2 separate regions of the Homo sapiens genome follow, and region 2 is linked to region 1. The links come from fine-mapping of genetic effects on gene expression. Tissue or cell type: blood mononuclear cells. Region 1 holds a variant in brackets; the other region holds the start of a gene. All regions are shown on one strand. Distances are from middle to middle.

Region 1 (8,182 bases):
CCCTGCTGTAGAAAGTTCTTATAGCAGTTAAGAAGTGCATACCCTCCACTCTGTCAGTAAGCAGTCCCAACAGGAGATATAGATGAAATCACAAAGGATTTGAGGGGAAAATCATAATTCCATTCAGTTTTTTGCCAGGTCCATTTAAAATTTGACTCTGCCCAGAGTTCTTCCCCTCATGGGTGTCTGGACCGATAATGACCAAGATTCCATCCACTCATCCCCTTCCTACCGTGGGGAAATCTCCCTTGAAGACCTTATCTTTCTGTGGAAAAGACTAAAGGACACTAGGAGCATCTGGAATACTTTGTGTCCTTTGATAGGAACACTCCACCGTCCACATTTTCAATCAGCACTTTCTTTCAGAACAGCATATGCCTTTTTTCCGTGTAAGGCTGTAATTCCTGCAGCAGGGCATCCGTGACAGCCACAGCTGGGGAACAGGCACAGTCCAGCCAGGCCCCTTGCTTTCCATTCATTGCTGTTGCTTGGGCCCCACCTTCCCTGGCTTAGAGGATCATTTGCTGTCCTTTCATCTTTGGGGGGTTGGACAGAACTTCCTGGCAGCTGTGGGAGGAGTTTCTCCTCCCTGGACATCAGTGTGTGAGAGAGTGGAGGTTCCTGGGGCCTCTCCTGCTCTGTGATCCTCAAAGGGCTGAGGTATACTACTCTTGCCAGCAGTTATACAGATGCACACAGTTCACTGGAGTCAGTATCTTCTAAGGCCACAAAGGCCAGACAGGATAGCCTAGGTTAGTAGCTTCTAGGGCCATTGTGGGAGGAAGCTGGGGCCGGGGGTGCAGGGTGGAGGTTATTGGCAAATCCATAAACTTTGACCAAATGTTGGATTCTTGGGCTGTTTGGATAAGGAGAAAGGCCTTCAAGACCCTTCTGCCATTCAGAATTACCAACATGAAAAGAAAGGCTGAGACCACCATTTCCAAGCCCTTAGGAATGGATATAAAGCAAGTTGCTGGCTCCTGCAGTTTATGTTAGCGGTGGGCCTGTGAGTGCCCCATGAACACATGGAGCGGCTTCAGCACCAGCCGTACTTTAAAGATGGATTTTAATTTGTACTCTCTTTTTCGTAGCCACATTGGCATTTATTTATTCCCATATTTATGTCGCCAGCAAATTTATATTCCCTATGCAAGACTCCCAAGTTTTTTAGTAAAGTATTACATGTTTGGGCTGAGTATGGTGGCTCACGCCTGTAATCCCAGCACTTTGGGAGGCCAAGGTGGGTGGATGGATGGAGGTCAGGAGTTCAAGACCAGCCTGGCCAACATGGTGAAACCCTGTCTCTAGCCCCAAAAATTAATTAGCCAGGTGTGGTGGCACAAGCCTGTAGTCCCAGCTACTTGGGAGGCTGAGGCATGAGAATCACTTGAGCTCGGGAGGTGGAGGTTGCAGTGAGCCAAGATTGTGCCACTGCACTCCAGCCTTTGTGACAGAGTGAGACTATCTCAAAAAATAAAAAAAGAATTACATATTTGAAGTCATCTTCCTTCAGATTTTCTTTGGTTTCTGTGATAGAAAAAGAACACGAAAGCTATAAATCACATAATACTAACTTTTCAGTCTTTGTAAGATACTGGTTGCTTCTCACCGTAAGAATAGATTTTGTGATTCACATTGATATGAAGCCTACTCCTTTCAGTTTTTCCTATGAGTTCCTTATAAAGCCTAAGTAAAATAGATTTGTTTTCTTGTACATCAGCTCATTTTTTATTTAATATGATGACAAGTTACTTATCCAGAGATCAGTTACCTGGAAACTTCAAGTATCTAGAACATAGCCAGAAACCCAGAAAGGAAGCAACAAAAGCAATTAAAGCAAAGCCACAGAGCCGCTATTTGCGCCTTTTCTTCCCTTAGCCCTCACTCACTCACATCTCTGCAGATACAGGCCTGATACGTGCTTTGCACACTGATGCTCGTTTCTCACTGCACTCTCCTGAGAGAGAGGCACTGTTCCATTATACAGATGATGGAACCGAGACACAGAGGAGTTCAGTAACGTGCTCAAGATTACAGAGCTCACAAGAAGTAGGGAGCCAGGATTGGAACCCAGGCAGGCTGGCACCAGGGACCAAGCTCTCCACAGCTCTGCCACCGCCCACAAGGACCGCAGCTTGGCACCTGCCCCACTGCCGGCTCTGCACACTCAGCCTTGGCCAGGTTGTTGGCATGTTGACAACCTGAAGAAGTGACTGCTGGTTTTAGGAAAGAGTAAGCCGTGACAGTTTAAAAGTTATGAGTTTATATGATATAACCAACTCTCCAGAAATTAGTAAACCCTTGAAGTAAACAGATGTTTTTTTAGCATTAATTGGTATAATTAGTGATGGTGAGGGGTCAGTAAGAAAACACTGGATTATCTTCAGGAGACCTAAGAAGGAGCAGAAAAATACTCACTTGTGTAAACCTTTCTGAATTAGCTGTGATAAAACGATAACTGTGGCATGTGCAGGGTACACAAATGGAAAACTTTGGACACAAAACCCTTTATCTTGGAAAGTCCCGCTAAATAAAATTTAAAAATAGTTGTTTTAAATTAAGCTAAGGTTTGTGGTTAGTTAACAGGAATAATCAATAACTTTTGACCATTTTCTTGAATAGTTTCTTTTTAGTGAGCTAACACAAATGCACGCTTAAAGGGGAGGCTTTGAGAGTCTCCCACTGGGGCCAAGGGGGCATCTTGAACATCCTCTGCAGAGAGAAGCGTCAGGCCTCCCGTAGACTTCATCTCTCAGGGAAAGGGAGGAAGGCATTCAGGTGGCAGAGAGAAGGCCCTTCGTAGCTTTTAGGTTGTAATTCAGTTCAGTTCTTCGGTCTTTTGAGTGCCTACTAATACTCTATACTTGATGATTATAAAATAAATTGTTTTTTTAAACTTTGATTTTTCTTTAAGTTTTAATAACAAGGTAATTGTTTAAATGTCTTCTCAGCTTCTCGGTGAACTACTACTAGATAGACACAACTTCACAATTATGACAAAATACATCAGTAAACCTGAGAACCTCAAATTAATGATGAACCTGCTGCGAGACAAAAGTCGCAACATCCAGTTTGAGGCCTTTCACGTTTTTAAGGTAGAGTACTAGAAGCATCAGTGATACTGTCCACTGGAATTGTTCGTCGTCTTTCATTCGCAAATAACGGAAATTATTAGCCTCACTCTGGTAATCCAGGTGACTTAATTAAATTCAGTCACTTTTCATATTTGTGTGCTATGACTTTTAAACAGAAAGGTAGACCTGGAAACGGGTTACTGTTTGGATCTGGGAACGAGAAGGTTTGTTCATAGAAGAGTGTCATTTATCTTTGGCCTAGAAGATTAGTAACTGCAAAACAAAAGCATTTCTTAATGCTTTCTGTGGAGGTTTCATTCTTAAAATCCCATCTGACCTCTTGTGCTGAGAAATAATTTCTGCCCATTTTATTCTAAAATCAAAGTCTGTATTTAATACTAAACACTGTGTTGCAGGGCTGGCAGAATGAGTTTATCAGTCGTATTTGTGTTAAAACATGTAATTATTATTTTTTTTTCCAAATTGTAAAATAACGCCTTCTAAAGCAAAACCTAATGACCCTGACTTCAGCGCCATCCCAGGAGAGCACAGCTCTGCTTTTCTGCACTGTGGCCGCAGCTCAGGTGTGGCTGCGTTTTGTCCTTTCTCTGTGCCTCATGTGCGTTTCTCTCCACGCAGGTGTTTGTAGCCAATCCTAACAAGACGCAGCCCATCCTAGACATCCTCCTCAAGAACCAGGCCAAACTCATAGAGTTCCTCAGCAAGTTTCAGAACGACAGGACGGAGGATGAGCAGTTTAACGACGAGAAGACCTATTTAGTTAAACAGATCAGGGATTTGAAGAGACCAGCTCAGCAAGAAGCTTAATCTCCAATAAACATCTATGTTAAATCCAAATTCAGCATTTGCTGTTAGCTATTCAGCATCAGGCACT[CTT/C]ATTGATTCATGAGGAACATTACTGCTAATCTGCTGTTAAGTGAACGGTTTTTCATTTTACCCTTTTGTTTTTCAGTCCAGGTTGGAGATCGTAGCTGCTGCTGCTTGCACACTAGGGCACATGTGGGCTTTCTCTTGATCTTTGTGTCATTTCAGAATTCAAAGACTGTGCTACGGGAGTTCTGAACATGGCTGGGTTCATGAAGGCAAATGTATGGATGAGAGTGTGGTTTAGGAAAGAGGGCACTGATATCAGATTAGACCTATGTGTTTGCACCCATCTTTGTTGGCGATCTGAGTGCAGTGTGGCAAGTGCACACCTGGCATCCCTGCGTCAGATCGCGCACCTTCAGGTCGCGCACCTTCGCTGAAGGAAGATGACGCAGAGCTTTATCTGAAATCAGAGGGGAGCTATCCAAAATGGGAGTTTGGGGGCAGCTAAAGTTGACATGCGAATAAATTGATACTGAAACTTAGCAACTTCTTAAAAGTGTAAAGAAGCCTCATAAGATCATAAGGAAAATGTATATATGCTTTTCACAGCTTTCTAGAATTTTTTGACATTTGATTTTCTTGAGACTTGTAAACCTGGATATGTTGAAGGGTATTTGTTAATTTTACTTTTCAAAGATACTTTAAAACAGTAGAGCTAGCAATGACACCTTGCATTTCATTTCAACACTGCTTCAAGGTTTCTTTTGTATATAATTCTTAGAATGCTCATTTCTTTTAAATGGTTTAATTTGTACAGCAGAGGAATGTTATTGTAGTAGTATGTAACTATTACCTAATACTGAGTTTTTGCAAAAAACAATGAATGCTCATATGTAATTGAAATACTTCAGATCACATGAAAATGCTGATTTAACATTTAAGTATCACAGCATTAAAAGAAAAAGAAAGTAAACCAGTCCTTTGTATTCAGTTACCTAATGGGGTGCCATCAATAAGCTGCGATACAGCCCTGGAGCTCAGTCAGCCACACCTTCCTGCATCCTATTGGCCTTATTCATTTTAAATGAGTTAATGAATCTGCCAGATCTGTGAATGATAGAGATTATGCTAAATTAATGCTGATTCTTTGTGTGTGTGGGAAATCTCTGTAGAGCACCTTTTCTTTCTTAGACTAAGTAACCCAGTACAATAGTTGTGAACTGAATAATTAAAACTTTGGCTTCTCTTAGGAAAAGACGACTTCCTAGTCATAGGTGTCCTATGGGGAAATTTATTTTTTTTAATGTCCTGTTCCTTAATGCTGCAAATTATCAGTATTTATAAAGTAACTGATTTTGCACCACTTTTTTGTTACTGTGACCACGGCAGAACAATGTCTTCTAGACTATATCTATGTAAAGTTATTAGAATGGTATCTGTTCATTTTAGTGATATGAAGATCACAACTAACAACTGACAAATCAGAGTTTGCCAGTTCAAATTCAGCATGGCTGCAGCTGATTAAGAAATTGATATGATTATTCTTTGCTAGCCTCTCTTACTAATGGAATTATATACTGGCCAGTAAAATGGGCCTCCCAATTGCTGTTTCAGCAGGTTTTAAACCTTCAGGAACACCAGTTAGGAAAATAGCTCCAGAAAATATAGATATATTTTATTTTTATTAAAATGGCAGTCTACATCATAATTGGCATTTCTCAAGACTGTCTTTACCAGAATCTGTGTGAAATAAGGCAATCTAGTCTCCTTGAAAAAAAAATCTCTTGGATGTTTAGGAAGGAAGACTTGGCCGTGATGTGGTGTCCTGGCTTTGTGGTGTAGTGCTGTGTGTATGGAGTTAGTGTAAAAACATGGATTACACCAAGTGGAAGAAACGTCTTCTTGCCAAGCTCATTCTTAGAACTTACACATCTAGAACAGCTTCCACTTTGGCAGTGAGGTCGTAGCCTTTTAGGTGGAAGAAGTGAGGGTGCAGCGTGTCAGACACAACATTCATGTTACTCTTACATTGGAATCTGAAGGTAGTTCAGACTTCGTGGGTTTTGTTTTTAAGCAAAACAATGTGAAAACATTTAAGTTTGAAATGTTGCATTTGAAGTTATGATCATTTAATATATTCATATTACCAAGACTATTATACTGGAAGTGGTTTTTGTGTTATAAAGGTTTAATTTTACATAAGGCAGTTACTTAATGTGATTTTTAACCCTTAAAAAAGTGGAGATGTATACATTTGTTAACAATGCCATGAAAGCATTTTCTTTCTCCTAAGGAAAAGTGAATTTCTTATCAGAATATCTGGCTGGCCCTGTAATTTAAATTAAAATAAAATTTTGGAGAAACAGCATTGTCTGTCTTTATGATGTGTTATAGACAGTTGCATTTGTGTTACTGTGAACAGCTTCATCAGGAGACACACAAGCCCGAATTTTATCACCAACTGAAAGTGGAGGGACAGTTAACACCCATTCCTGTCTGCCTTTTTCCCTGTTCAGGGGCTTCACTTCCCCCCCACCGCCCCCGTGCTCATGTTTTCCTTACCCTTCCTGAGTAAAATCACACCTTTTAATGGTACCATTTCTTAGACCCTAACGTTTGAGGAGTAGATCCTCTCTTGCGCTGTTAGCAACACCGCGAGGCTAAACTAGAACACTCGGCCCGGAGTATTCACAGGTTACTGATGTGAAATGATCATGAAGGCGAGGGGACCGTGGAAGCAGGCACAAGAACTCTGGCACCGTAAAGAATGTCCCTCGTCTGCCTTCCAGGGTGCCTCGTAATCCTTAGTTCACAGCCCTGCCCTCGACTTTAACCCCTGTCAGTAAATGAAATCTTATTCTCTGGAGTGAAGGCAAGGGACATGCTCTTGCCAAAAACACTTCATCCGAATAACAATGTCCTATTTGTTATTTCTGTCAAGTAGTTCAGTCTACTTGTACGTTGTAGTTCCCCAAAGGTGACAAGGGCCCATTAAGTCATAACTTGTGACTTGGCCACTTATAAGGATCACCAGGCTGAGGACTGGATTCACGCTTCAGCTCAAATTCCACTTCCTACCACAATCCCCCATCAAATGCCCTCCTCCCCTTGCCAAAGAAGCTCCAGAACGTTGCACTTCAGGCAGCTCAGGAGTAGTGCAGTTCTCACCCAGCCTTCCTAGTTAGGCTCCAACAAGGTCCTGATCGGGAAGTGCTCTGAGGCTGCAGTCAGTGCCCAATACCTTGTTCATGCTGGAGGTTAGAGCCACTCACGGTCATGAGAAAGCCCACCTGCCAACGTGCCAAAGTTGTCCTTTAGGGGAAGAGCGGGCAGCCCAGCACACACCGCCCTTCAGGTACTCCCGGATGTGTCAGGAATCTTCTCCCTGGCCATGGCTGTGTCCTCACTGACCATCTGGTTTCCAGAAGACATGAAGGACAGGGTAAGATTCTCCCCAGTCAGCAATCTCAGTACTGCAGAAAGACCCACTGGAGCTTTTCTCTACGAATACCATCCGCTTTCACCCGTTGACAGTCTGCTTGCGGTCAACCAGCACACCTCCGCCACCGAGCACTTTAGACCCAAGAAGTGCCTAATAAGGATCTTAAGCTTTCGAACCTCCAGGAATCCTGCCACCAGCATTCACGCTGACTGAAGAGGATGGTGGTGGTTGCACAAGGCTGTGTCACTGCACAGCTATATGAGGCCTTCATGTTGTGTGTGCCCTTACAGTGTCCTCTAAAACCTTGCTCATGTCTGAGAACTGGCAGCCAAGTGTCCGTCCCCACTGTGGCTGGAAGGTGGGGTAGGTTCCACCTGAGGGCACGTCCGCCGGGAGCTAAATCTCCAAGGACCGTGACCCCCTGGTTTCTTTTCTTTTTTTATTTTTTTATTTTTTTTTTTTGAGACGGAATCTTGCTCTGTCGCCCAGGCTGGAGTGCAGTGGCGCGATCTCGGCTCACTGCAAGCTCCACCTCGGGTTCACACCATTCTCCTACCTCAGCCCCCTGAGTAGCTGGGACTACAGGTGCCTGCTAATTTTTTGTATTTTTTAATAGAGACAGGGTTTCACCGTGTTAGCCAGGCTGGTCTCGATCTCCTGACCTCGTGATCTGCCCGCCTCGGCCTCCCAAAGTGCTGGGATTACAGGCATGAGCCACCACCCCCAGCCAGACCCCCTGGTTTCTATGCAGAAGATTTCATCCTTTGCAATTTGTTAAATTTTTATTATTTTTTCTAGGTAGCACTTCAGTAGTAAGACAGACCCCAGAGATTTC
Region 2 (8,182 bases), 110 kb before region 1:
CAGGTGATCCACCCGCCTTGGCTTCTCAAAGTGCTGGGATTACAGGCGTGAGCTACCGTGCTCGGCTTTTTTTTTTTTTTTTTTTTTTTTTTGAGACAGAGTCTCACTCTTGTTGCCCAGGCTGGAGTGCAACGGCACAATCTCGGCTCACTGCAACTTCCAACTCCCAGGTTCAAGCGATTCTCCTGCCTCAGCCTCCCAAGTAGCTGGGATTATAGGCATGTGCCACCACGCCTGGCTAATTTTTTGTATTTAGTAGAGATCACCTGAGTGGATCACCTGAGATCTTCTTTCCTTCTCTTTCTTTTTTTTTTTTTTAACATAGTCTCCCTCTGTCACCCAGGCTGGACGGCAGTGGTGTGATCTCAGCTCACTGAAACCTCCATCTCCTGGGTTCAAGCAATTCTCCTGCCTCACTCTCCGGAATAGCTGGGATTACAGCCATGCAACACCACGCCCTGCTAATTTTTGTATTTTTGGTAGAGATGGGGTTTCACCATGTTGGCCAGACTAGTTTCGACCTCCTGGCCTCAAGTGATCCACCTGCCTCTGCCTCTCAAGGTGCCAGGATTATAGGCATGAGCCCCCTCACCTGGCCAGATTTTCCTGGATCTCTTCCTACCAAACTGGCTCCTCCCTCTCAGGGTTCTTTGCTGGTTCCTTACCATTCCCTGACCTGTCATTGTTGGGGGACTGGGCTTAGTAGTAACACTCACATCCTAAAGGATCTCACTGAATTCAGAGGTTTTACCTACTCTGAGAACCACCTAAATTCTGTCTGTGGCCCAGACTTCTCCTCTGAAGTCTTCTTTTTTTTTTTTTTTTTTTTTTTTTGAGCCGAGTCTCGCTCTGTCACCCAGACTGGAGTGCAGTGGCGCAATCTCAGCTCAATGCAACCTCTGCCTCCCAGGTTCAAGCAATTCTCCTGCCTCAGTCTCCAGAGTAGCTCGGACCACTGGCGCACGCCACCACACCCGGCTAATTTTTGTATTTTTATTAGAGACGGGGTTTCACCATGTTAGTCAGGCTGGTCTCCAACTCCTGACCACAGGTGATCCGCCTGCCTCAGCCTCCCAAAGTGCTAGGATTACAGGCGTGAGCCACCGCGCCAGGACTTCTCCTCTGAACTCTTAAGTCCAACTTCCAACTTGGGTGTCCAACAGGCAGCTCAAACTTTGTATGTCCCTAAGTAAATTTCCAAGTTCCTCCCTTCACATCTGTTTCTGCTTAAATTTTCCCCATATCACCAAATTGTATTTTCCAGTTGCTTGAGAAAAAAAAAAATTAGAAATCAGGAAAATCCTTTTAGCTTTACCCTTTATTTATTTATTTTTTTTCTTGAGTCAGGGTCTCACTCTGTGGCCCAGGCTGGAGTGACAGTGGCACAGTCACAGCTCACCGTAGCCCCGACTCTCCAGGCTTAAGTGATCCTCCCACCTCAGCCTCTGGAGTAGCTGGGACTACAGGCACATGCTACCACGCCTGGCTAATTTTTTTTTCTAGAGACAGGAGTCTCACTATGTTGCCCAGACTGGTCTCCAACTCCTGGCCTCAAGTGATCCTTCCTCCTCTGCCTCCCAAAGTGGTGGGATTACAAGCGTGAGCCACCTTTTATTATTATTATTATTATTGAGACTGAGTACTGCTCTATTGCCCAGGCTGGAGTGCAGTGGCACAATCTTGGCTCATTGCAATCTCCCCTTACTGCAACCTTTGCCTCCCGGGTTCAAGCGATTCTCCTGTCTCAGCCTCCCGAATAGCTGGGATTACAGGTGCCCGCCACCATGCCCAGCTAATTTTTGTGTTTTTAGTAGAGACAGGGTTTCACCATGTTGGGCATGGTGATCTCGAACTGACCTCAAATGATCCTCCCACCTTGGACTCCCAAAGTGTTGGGATTCCAGGCGTGAGCCACCTTTTAAACGTGTCTACAGGTGATCATTTTACTCTTCTACTGCCACCACCCTGGACAGAGCCTTATCTTTTTTTTTTTTTTTTTTTTTTTTTGAGATGGAGTCTCCCTCTATCGCCCAGGCTGGAGTGCAGTGGCGCGATTTCGGCTCACTGCAACCTCCGCCTCCCGGGTTCAAGCAATTCTCCAGCCTCAGCCTCCCAAGTAGCTGGGGTTATTTTTGTATTTGTAGTAGAGACGGGGTTTCAACATACTGGTCAGACTGGTCTCGAACTCCTGACCTCAGGTGATCCCCCTGCTTCGGCCTTCCAAAGTGCTGGGGTTACAGGTGCGAGCCACCACGCCCGGCCGGACAGTCTTATCTTTTGGCTGGCTGATTTCAACAGGCTTCTCGCTGGTCCCCCTGCTGAAACCCTCAGGGCTTTCAGTCTGGTCCTCATACCACAGCCACAGGGATCCTCCTGAAATGTCATTCCACGTCCTTTCTCTGCTCGCAACCCTTCAAATTGCTTCCCATCTCCTTGAGAGTAAAAACAGGAAGTCCTAACTTTGGTTGGTAGGGCCGCACTTCTTCCTCATCTCTTCCCCTATCTGGGGCCGCTTTCAAGCCAGCAGATTCTCGCCTCAGGGCCTTGGTCCTGCTATTCCCTCTGCCTTTCCATACAGAAAGCTCCCAGGCTCTCTCTCTCCAGGAAGCTGCTCCCTGAATGAACACTGTAAATAACAACACCCTGCTTTCTCTCCCCTCCTCACCCAGTGGTGTTTTTAACTGTCCAGTATTTGTTTTTTTGTTGTTGTTTTTTGTTTGTTTTGTTTTTGTTTTTTGGAGATAGTCTCGCTGCGTCGCCCAGGCTGGAGTGCAGTGGCGCGATCTCGGCTCACTGTAACCTCCGCCTCCCGGGTTCAAGCGATTCTCCTGCCTCAGCCTCCTAAGTACCTGGGAATACAGACGCCCGCCACCACGCCCGGCTAATTGTTTTTTGTATTTTTAGTAGAGATGGGGTTTCACGGTGTTGGCCAGGCTGGTCTTGAACTCCTGACCTCGTGATCCGCCCACCTCGGCCTCCCAAAGTGCTGGGATTACAGGCGTGAGCCACCGCGCCTGGCCCAATTGTCCAGTATTATACATACCTGTAGGTTTATTAGTCAATTATTTGTCAACTGTTTGTGCTAGGAGCATGGACTGTTTCGCTCACTGCCCCATCCCTGACGTACAGGAGGCGCTTAAAAAGTAGTTCAGTTACACATTAAAAACAAAGAAACAAAAATACACACATATGGCATTTGTATGTGCCAGGCTCCGTTGTCAGAGCTTTGCAATGCACTGTCCCGTTCATCCTCAGAAGCCCGTGGCTGGTACCACTATATTATTACACACTTTTTTTTTTAATGTGTGAGGAAATCCAGGCACAGGGACGTGAAACAGCCCATAGATAGCAAATGGTGGAGCAGGACTTAAATCCAGGTTGCTGATTTAAATAGGAATATTCCCATTAATCTGGAACGTTCTGGCACTTGTCCCCCTGGATGCTGTGTCCCCCTGGATGCTAAAATGAAGCGATCTGCTCCAAGAAAGTAAGAATCGGTCTGCACAAAGTGGGATCCCGGCCTCTCGCAGAATTAAGCTTGAAGAGTTGAGGAAGTGGTCGTTGAAAGTGGGCGTGCGATTCCCGCAGTAAGAGCGCTCAGGCGGAGGAGAAAGGGCTGAGCCCCGCCTTGGAAGCTGCGGCGGAGGAAGAGGAACTGCGGGGCTTGGCTTCTGCTTTTCTCTGCGGCCCCTCCCGCTCGGGCCTCGCGCCTACTTGCGGCGCCCTGAGTCCGCCGGCCGCTCGGGGGCGCCCGAGGCGGAAGGGGGCGTTGCGGCACCGCCCGACGTCGCGTCCTCGGCGGCTGCGCAGTGCGCACGTCAAAGCCGGGCTCGGGCCGCAAGCGGGGCGAGGGGTTCGGGGAGCGGCGCGGCCTGGGAGACACAGAGCCTTCAGGCGCCGGGGCGGGGGCACAGGCGAAGACTAAGGCGGCGCCGGGCCCCACAGCAGCAGCCGCAGCCCAAGCGAGCGCAGCAGCGCGGCGGCAGCCGCGGGAGCCCCTGGGCAGCCGTCCGCCCGCGCAGCCGCCGCCGCCGCGGGAGCCCGTCGCCGGGAGCAGGAGCGGGCGGAAGACAACGGAGGGGCCGAGCGTCCGAGCCACTCCGCGGGGACCGAACGAGCAGCCCGAAGCGGCGGCGGCCGAGGACGGGGACAGCGACGACGCGGAGGCAGAGAAGGGAACGCCCGGCCCAGCCCCGTGAGTGACCCCCGGCCGGCCCTGCTCGTGGTGCGGACGCCTGCCCGGCTTCCGCCTGCCCCGCTGGGCCCTCACCGGCCCCGGGGCTGCCTCCATTTTCCTGGGTGGCGGCGGCCCCGGCCCAGCTTGTCCCCGGAGCCCCCGGGAGCAGCCGGGCCCAGCCTGCCCTCTCCGCCCGGCTCGGCTCCGGTCCCTCGCTGAGACGCTCCCTTTGCCTTCGCCGGCGTGGGGCGCCCGGGGGCCTGCAGTCCAGGCGCTCCTGCCTCTCCCCCCGTGGTTCTCTGGCGGGGCTGGCGGCGCGTGGTGGTCCGGGCCGGAGTCGGGCGGGCGGGGAAGTGCGGGCCGGGTCAACTGTCACCGGCTGCACCCGGGCTTCAGCGCCTCGCTCCCGCCCCTGGTAAACTTCCTGTTGTCGGGAGGCAGATACCAGCTTTGTGACCAATTCAGGAAAATGCCTAACTGATTTCTGGTTAGGAATTGGGCGGTCGGAGCGTTCTGGAGTTCAATGGAACCACCCCAAGCGCAGACTGCGTGCAGGCGCCGTAGTCGGCCCGCACCGGAGGGATTCAAAGGTGAAGCGGGCCCCGGTCCCCTCCCCCGAGGAGCTTAGGCTCTGGTGTGAGAGATAAGACGAGAACACAAATAACTGCGATACCGGGAAGGAGGTGATAAGTCCTGTGAAAGAACGACGGAGTGCTAGAACGGCACCCGGAAAAACCGAACCGATCACTTCTGCCTCGCAGAAACCTGGAAGGCTTCCTGGGCGGGGGATGCTGAGCAGAGTCTTGAAGGCCTGATGGGATTTAGGAGAGGAGGATTGCAGAAGAGGTGTGTGGAAGGGGTAGCAAAAGCGAGAAGACAAAGCCTAGAAATCATGGATAATTCCGTTTGTTGGCATGGTGCAGGGGGCGGGGGGTATTGGGCTAAAGAGGTATTTTGGGGCCAGATCCTTGAATGCTGTAGAGGAGCTATTTGAGCAGCATTCTAAGAGAAACTTAGAGCTCATTTCTCAGTGACTCATGAGCCCGGAAATGTAGGCTAGGGGATATTAAAGGCGCTCTTGTGAAAGGAGAGAGGAGGAGGCCCAGTCAGGAGTTGACATTCTGTGCCTTGAATGTAATGCAGTTTCAGATCGATTTTGACAGCTTCCCAGATAATCAAGTAAATCCATGCCCAGGCTAAGCAAAGTACCTTTGCAGAAAGCTTCATTAGATATCAGGCTCTTAAGAGGTAATGGAAAGGTGTCTATAAAATAAGCTCATCTGCACACAGAAGGTGTTTCTATTTGTGCGTTCGCTACAGTGCATAAAAACTTCTTGCACTTTGTATTAGGCGTATGTACTTTGGAATTACTAAGCTAAACCTACATTCTTTGAGGTGGCATTTGTGTAAAATAACATAAATTGATGATTTTTAAAAAATGGTTAGTAATATTCTGCTGTAGAAAGCCAGACGTAGACCTTTTACAGAAAGGTAAAACTTTGTTTTTATATTTTATTTTATTATGAAATCTTTATAGTAGAGCCAGAAGTGAAAGTGTTTAGCTTTATTTTGTAGTTTGTTCAAATTGTTAGGAAGTAATTAGCAGCTGTATTCGAAATCTAGAATATACGATCTGTGAAAGCAGCTTAGGGCCTAAGTTTTGTAAGCTTGCACTTGTTTGCGTGTATGACAAGTGAATGCCACCTTTTTGCAGTTTAAAAATTTTCTGCTTTTCAAAATAATACATGATCTTTGTCAAAGCTTCCAAAATTCAGGGAGTGCTAGAAAATCTTTAAAACATTTTCTATAATCTTACCACTTAGATTTGGTTACTGCTAACATTTTTGCGTATTTTCTTTCCAGTCTTTTTCTGTGTATTTTTTCTTTGCATAATGAAATATATTGTATGCATATGTATACACACACACATCTCTTATTAAGCTTTTCTTGTCATTAAATATCTTCATATAAAAAATTTTTACTCAACAATGGAAGTCTTCTAAGCATGTTATGTTTTCCTGACAAGGTTGTATTATTTACCTCAGATGAAATGCAGTAGTTAGGCTTAATAACTACTAGTGTGGACAGAACTTTTTCTGAAAGTTTCTTGTTTGAAGTATGTTTCTTTCTCTGTAAGACTTGGATCCTCTTGCTTGTTGAATAAAGTTTTTCTTGGCAGGATGTGTGTTGTCATGAGGTGTGGAAGAGGAAGAAAGCACACAGATCTCTGCTATAGGAGTGAATGGACTTTTAAAGGGATGTTGTCAAAAGATTACTGTCATGGCTGGTATACCATCCCCCACAGACGGCGATGCAGTGTCCCTTCCCACTCCCCACTTCGCTCCTGAAAAATAGTCTCTACACTAGGGCCATCCATATAGGTTAACTATTTTTTGAACATGACATCACGAAGACTCAGGCTGGATATAAGCATAGAATATTTCATGAAATGGTTTGCTACTATAACAAATGGGTGGTATTTGCCTTTTTGGTTTTGTTTTGTTTTTTGAGACAGGTTCTCACTCGGTCGCTCAGGCCGGAGTGCAGTGGTGCGAACATGGCTCACTGCAACCTCAACCTCCTGGGCTCAAGCCATCCTCTCACCTCAGCCTCCTGTAGACGGGACCACAGGCTCGTACCATCACATCCGGCTAATTTTTGTATTTTTATAGAGACAGGGTCTTGCCATGTTTCCCAGGCTGGTCTTGAACTGCTGGGCTCAAGTAATCTCGCCTTGTCCTCCCAAAGTGCAGGGATTACAGGCGTGAGCCACCACGCTTGCCTGGATATCTGTTTTTTTATTTCAAGGCAGCTTACTTCCCTTCATTAGCATTTTCTACTTCAGGTTCTTGTACTAAGTCAGTTTTTTCCCATGTATTTTACATTCTAAGGTGTATTAATAAGATCTCTGTTTCTGTTTCATCACGTATGAAGTAAGATGCTGAGTAAGGCTGTATACGTTTCCTAAAGTTAATGTAGAAGAACTGCTAAGAAAGTCCAGTATAAGTATGGGGTTTGGTAACTTGATTTTATTTGAATGTTTGTATATTGCAAATACGTATGCCACACAGGGTCTTTATTACCTTGGAATATTTACTAAAGTTTTCTGTTTTGATCAACTTTTGTGGGATTACAGATTTCTTTAGTTATTGCCATACTTTCCCAAGAGCCTTTTTTCCAGATTGATGACTAATCACTCACAGTTTAGCCATCTGCCATGAAAATACACAAATCCAACCTCCCCAACCCCCAAAAATAAAATTCAGTAGTAGGACGAATTTTGTTTCAGGTATTGTCTTTTGTTTACCTTTCTGGCATTGTTTCTATTCCAGCTCTATTTTATTTTTTAATTTAAAAAATGTTTTAATTAAAAGAGATGGTGTCTCATTCTGTTGCCCAGGCTGGTCTTGAACTCCTGGGCTTATGCCATCCTCCTGCCCCAGCCTCCCAAAGCACTGGGATTATAGGCCTGACCACACTGGCCTCCAGCCCTATTTTAAAAGGTCAGGCCGAGCGGGGTAGCTCACTCCTATAATCCCAGTGCTTTGGGAGGCCAAGGTGGGAGGATTGCTTGAGCCCAAGAGTTGGAGGCCGATCTGAGCAACATAGCAAGACCCTATATCCACAAAAATAAAAAATTAGCCGGGCATGGTGGTGTGTGTGCCTGTTGTCCTAGCTACTCAAGAGGCTGAGGCAGGAGGGATTGCCTGAGCCCAGGAATTTGCAGCCTCAGTGAATTTTGATCACTGCATTGCAGCCTGAGGTGACAGAGTGATACCCCATCTCAAAAAATGTATATATAAAATAAAAATAATAAAAATAAAAATTCATTTTCCTCTTTTTCATTGCTTCTTTTAATTGGGCATTTGATTTTATGAACGTCTTTACATGTTACAGAAATGGGACTGTGGAAGGTGGATTAATTTGGATAACAGAAAAACTGGTAAACATTTTTTTTTACACACTTTGATAAAATTGTGGGGAAAAAATATCAAATCTGAATCT

Evidence for each region. PIP is the estimated chance that this variant, and not a neighbour inherited with it, causes the effect.
Region 2: CAB39 starts here. The variant in region 1 is fine-mapped to the expression of CAB39 in blood mononuclear cells (TOPMed, PIP above 0.99). The same link has a PIP of 0.9 or more in lung.

What each region holds. Positions count from the first base shown.
Region 1 is chr2:230,814,803-230,822,984 of GRCh38, forward strand. CAB39 (calcium binding protein 39) reads left to right here. Exons shown (of 9, transcript NM_016289.4): 8 at 2,952-3,095; 9 at 3,714-6,273. The coding sequence ends at 3,902. Among named protein-coding and RNA genes, the nearest start is that of ITM2C, 46 kb to the right of the region's middle. The variant CTT/C (reference allele first, on the strand shown) is at 3,970.
Region 2 is chr2:230,709,036-230,717,217 of GRCh38, forward strand. CAB39 (calcium binding protein 39) reads left to right here and starts at 3,807. Exons shown (of 9, transcript NM_016289.4): 1 at 3,807-4,195. It overlaps LOC124907996 (formin-like protein 16), which reads right to left and starts at 4,291. Exons shown (of 4, transcript XM_047446832.1): 1 at 3,044-4,291. The coding sequence starts at 4,291. The coding sequence ends at 3,533. RefSeq lists a silencer at 3,579-4,518.